Linked DNA regions of Homo sapiens: region 2 is linked to region 1. Evidence: fine-mapped expression QTL. Tissue or cell type: regulatory T cells. Region 1 holds a variant in brackets; the other region holds the start of a gene. All regions are shown on one strand. Distances are from middle to middle.

Region 1 (2,762 bases):
TTCACTGAACATGAGATCAATTTAGTTGTGAAGACTGACGTTTTGAAAAATAAACTAGAAAAGAATGGGATGGAACAAAACAGAAAACTATCAGAGGATTTGGATGTGATAGGAGTATTATTTTGTGAAACTTTGGTCTTGGTTAAATACACACATCTCAGTCTGTCTACAGTGGAGAGTCTGATGGTGCTTACCAGGACCTGTGGGCTCCTCTACCTCTCCCAGCCTCGACAACCGGCCATGTGACTGAGACCCTGTTGATAGAGTATGTCTGGAGGGATATATGCCACTTTCAGATATGGCCCTTAAAACCCTCCCACACAGGCTCCTCCATGCTTTCTTCTTCCCGTATGCCACTAGATGACACCGGGACAATCTTGAAGCCACATGATCTCAGAGGCACATGTGGAAGCAGCCTGGATCCTGAGCCATTATTTGGAGGAATGTCACCCAAATGGAGTCACCTGGCCAGGGACATCAGCTTTGGATTTTGTGTAAATGAAAAATAAATGTCTATTTGGTTAAGCCAGATTGTTTTACCTGCCTTGTGCACACGTTTGTGCTTGTGGGTGTGTGCATGCCTATGTGTGGGTGTGTGCATGTGGCTTATGCCACAACATATATTTCTTAATGCAGATTTTAGTCAAAAACATGTGAAAGCAAGTGTTTTGGACAGTGTGTTTCAAAATGTGGTCCCAAATCAATTGCAATAGAATCGCTTGGGATACTCATTAGAAATGCAGATTTCTGGACCCTACTGAGATCTACTGAGTCAGGATCTTGGTCCTGGGGCCTAGGAATGTTTAAGATTTTTAACAAACTCCATGAACCTTATAAACATTAAAGTTCAAAAACTACTTTGGTCCTGGCATTGGTAGAAATGTTTTCTTGGCAACCCTGGGGCTGGTTAAATCTAACAAGCATTGTATCTATTTTCCCTTTTTTTTTTTTTTTTTTGGTCATTGTCCAAAGTGCGAGTCTCTCCTTATTCCCCACTCCACCTATACTCTATATAATTTCATCATAACAGTACAGTGTCATGATTCACATACACCTTTTCTCAGAATACCTCCCAATTATCTTCCTCTTCCTAAGCTTTTACTGCCTTTGAAAAGGCCTGTTGCATAATTAACAAATGCCCCTATCCCTACAATCTTTTCCCTAACCATTTTCTTAATCTTCTGACTCTCTCCAAGTT[A/G]CCTGTTCTGCTCCTCTCTCAAGTGGGAGCTGCTCATTTTTCATTTTATGCACTCTTGTCAGAGTTGGCAAGTGGGTCAGATTTCTTCCTTAGTACCCACTGCTGCTTCCCAGCCAGGACTCTCCTACCCTTTTGGATAGGGCTGTATCAATTAGAATGCTTGTGGCTGCAGGTAACAGAATATCCAACCAGAAGAGCCATAAACAATAAAGACATTTATTATCTTACATGATAAGAAGTCAAAAGGTTGAGTGATATGTGGCTAATTCAACAGGTCTTTCCATTTTTCCACTCTGTCTTCTCCAGGATATTGTATTTAATTTTATCCTCAGGTTTGTGTCCTCATGGTTTCAAGATAGCTGCTGCCACTCCAGTCATCAAATCCCTCACTGCTACATCTGAATTAGTTTCCTATGGCTTCCGTAACAAATATCACAAACTTGGTTCTTAAAACAACAAAAATTTATTCTCTCACTGGTCTAGAAGCCAGAGGTTTGATGTGTCACTGGGCTGACATCAAAGTGTTAGCAGGGCTCTTCTCCCTCTGAAGGCTCTAGTGGAGAATCTGTTTCTTGCCTCTTCCAGATTCTGATAGCTGCCAGCATTCTTTGGCTTGTGGCCACATCACTCCAATCTCTGACTCCACCTTCACATTACCTTTGTGTGTGTGTGTGTGTGTGTGTGTGTGTGTGTGTGTGTGTGTGTGTCTTCTCTCTGTCTATATCAAATCTCCCTCTACCCCTTTCTTAAAAGGTCACTTTGTGACTGCATTTAGGGCCCACCTGGACAATTCAGGATATTCTCCCTATCTCAGGATCCTAAACTTAATCATATCTGCAAAGACCCTTTTCCCATACAAGGTAACATTTACAGGTTCCAGGGATTAGCACCTGATATCTCTCAGGGGAATTATTCAACCTGCTATAATGTCAAAACTGGAAAGTGCAATTTCTCCTCACCTACAATTTCCTAACAAGGAGGAAAATCTTTCCCCGAAGCCCCCATCTTATTGCCCCCTAGTCCTGTTGGCTAGGGTTGGGTCATGAGCTCATACATGTGATCTCCATGGGGAAGGAAGGCTCTATCAGCAAGAAAAATGATGAAAGGATGAGGTTAAAAATCACCAACATCTGCCTCAGGATTCCTGCTCCTTGAAGGCCCAGGTCATCAGGCCAAGCCCCCACTGCCCTTCCATGATGTTCTTCTCTTTTGGTTTTCTGTTCACTCCTCCTCAGTCGTTGAAGCCTGGCATTTGTTTCATATTCTTTCTATCTGACCCATCTAACCACTGAGCACTCAGTTCTCTGACCTCCTCATCTTCCAGTGATCTTCCATACCCCATCTCCGCCTTCCATTCTCACAGCTTCACCCTAGACCTGGACATCCCCCCTGAGATAACAAGTACAGATGACTGCCCTCCGGCTACATCCCCCTCCCTCCAGCTTACTCTGTTGCTCCCATCACTCCTCCTCTTTCCTTTCTGCCCATCCACCAACCACTTTTGTCTTCAGTTTCCTCCTATCCAGAACATATTACTTATATTCTAAATTCCCTTGACCCTTGA
Region 2 (2,500 bases), 960 kb before region 1:
AAAATCATAATCATCATATTTTATATATATTTAACTTTTCCCCCATTATTTGACATTTTAAGATTGCTTTCAGCTTTTCACTTTTACAAATTTTATAAATTTGCATCCTTTCTCAGAGTAGATATCTAATAGTTGAATTACTGGGTTCTGAGGGAGGAAATTTCATGTAATGGTTATTGACTTAGGTTCATTTCTTGGTTGACTTTGTTGACTGCTAGCCATGTAACCATTAGTAAGATGCATAACTTCTCTAAAGCTTAGTTTCCTTATTTAATATAGAGAAAATATTTACTTCATAGTATGTGAATGCTCAGCATTGTATATGAATAAAGTGAGCAGAGCCAAGGCTGACTCTCAATCAATGCTAGCTGTTATTTTTGTACTTAAAAAATACTTGATATAGGTATTCATAAATAACAGGTAGATTTTACCTGTTTACACTTCCAACTTTAATAATGAGAACACTTAATTAGATTATAAAATTTTGAGTTAGAAAATGAACATGAAGTTGATTCCACAGGATTGCCACTCATTTGTGGCACTCTACAATACCCACTTGGGATAACCGTGAAAATGTTTGCAATTGCGAAACAATATGAAACCCATAAAACAATGGAGCGTATTTACATTAACACCTAGATCGCGTTGCTTAAAAGCGTCCATTACTTGCACGGATGAGGTCCTAAGGAAAGGTAAAGTGCGGTTTCCTTCACCTCGAAGGAAATCCAGGCTGACCGACAGCTGTTAGGCATTAGAAACACAGGACAAAGAGCAAACTGGATATCCAGCACTGGAAGAAAAAGGTGAGAAGCCCAGTGCATCTCCGCCTGTTTTAACAGGTTATGCTGCTCTAAGGAATTGCGTTCCGGAGAGCGTAAGCGGTGAAGTTTTAGCTATTTCTATCCTTCCAACTGAGAAGCCCTCCTGGAAGTTTCAGCCCATTGGCTGCTTTCTGTTCTCCCTGTTTCTTCTGGGAAGCTTCTCCGTCTCCCTGGCAACGCGACCTGCCACCAATTGCAGCTAAGGATTGGTGGTCACATGGCCTCTGCCCCTTCCCAAGCAGAGGCAACATGGCGGCCTTAGCAAGCTATAGCTGCGAGATTTGAATTACTCCACTCGTAGCTATTGCATTCCTGACGATGGCCTCTGTGGCTTCGTGCGATTCGCGTCCGAGCTCAGACGAGCTCCCTGGAGACCCCTCTTCACAAGAAGAAGATGAGGACTATGATTTTGAAGATCGGGTCAGCGACTCGGGTTCATATTCCTCAGCGAGTAGCGATTATGAGTAAGGTTTTCAAAGAGGGACAATTAATCCCATCCCATCAATCCAGAGAATATACACGTGGGCTGGGGGAACTGCAAGGGTGTTGGCGTGGTTGGAATCGAGTATTTGGGGTTCTATAATAAGTGGGATTTAATTGCACCACGTTCCATTGTATGGTGGTGTGAGCAGAAATGACGATGCCATTCTTTGCTACTGTAGGTTGTTTTTTGTTTGTTTTGTTTTGTTTTTTCAATGATTCTTAGATGAGGAGAATCTCCTCTTTTTGGTCATGGGCTCTGTCTAGGCCATAGGAGGATATATCTGTAACAGCGTTCAAAAAACTCTGTTTCGATCGCAGTGTCTTGATTCTTTGGTGTGACCTTTGTGGCTTAATCTCTTTAGTATTTGGAGTGGAGAGACACCCTACGCGTTTTATAAGGCAGTTGTTAAATTTATGTAGATTTTTTCTGTTATGGAAATGAATAGCTATATAACAGAAGGAACGCCCACCCATAGTCTCACCATCAAGGACAACCTCTCAGCACTTCTGGATATTTCTGCTGTATTTTCCTATGCATCTCCATGATTTTCTTGTTTTCCATTTTACGTCATAATTTAATTTTTAAAAATACAGATACCTAAAGGTTTCACTTTCTTAATAATGCCATGAAAAGGTTATTTTGATTCACAGTATTCAGTGCTACTTCATTTTTAAGAAAAATCTACCCCTTACTGCTATGGATTAAGAACTTTAGAAAAGTCAACTAGCAGTAGCTTGAAGAGAATGACTAATCGTGAAAAAGTTTTGGTGCCAAAATGTCAACTAACCCAGTAATGGACAACCATACCTGGTCAGTTTTAGGATGACATTTTATGTGTATTTAGGAACAACAGTTACAAATCATTTATATGTATGTAGGAGCAACTGTTATTTGGCAATTGTTTTTACCTATCAGTATGTAAAAGATTTTTATCATTGCCTTTAAAAGTATGGTGGGGAAACCTGTTTAATACATTCTTGAAGACTTAAACAAATTTTAAAATATCGTATTTTTTTGTAATCTGCTGTAGGCATTAAAAAAATAATTTTAAAATTCATGATTATTACACAAGGCTGCTGGAAGGAAATATGAATTACATAGAACCTTATTTGGTCTTGGTATGTGAAGCCATAGACAGTGTAAGACTCAAACTCTTGGCTTCTCCACATTTTAGAGTCGCATACTTTTAGCCCAG

Evidence for each region. PIP is the estimated chance that this variant, and not a neighbour inherited with it, causes the effect.
Region 2: it holds the start of INTU, and the variant in region 1 is fine-mapped to the expression of INTU in regulatory T cells (Schmiedel 2018, PIP 0.95).

The regions. Positions count from the first base shown.
Region 1 is chr4:128,592,095-128,594,856 of GRCh38, forward strand. No RefSeq gene overlaps it. Among named protein-coding and RNA genes, the nearest start is that of LINC03140, 23 kb to the left of the region's middle. The variant A/G (reference allele first, on the strand shown) is at 1,199.
Region 2 is chr4:127,631,896-127,634,395 of GRCh38, forward strand. It overlaps INTU (inturned planar cell polarity protein), which reads left to right and starts at 1,062. Exons shown (of 16, transcript NM_015693.4): 1 at 1,062-1,285. The coding sequence starts at 1,140. RefSeq lists enhancers at 710-1,249, 912-1,091.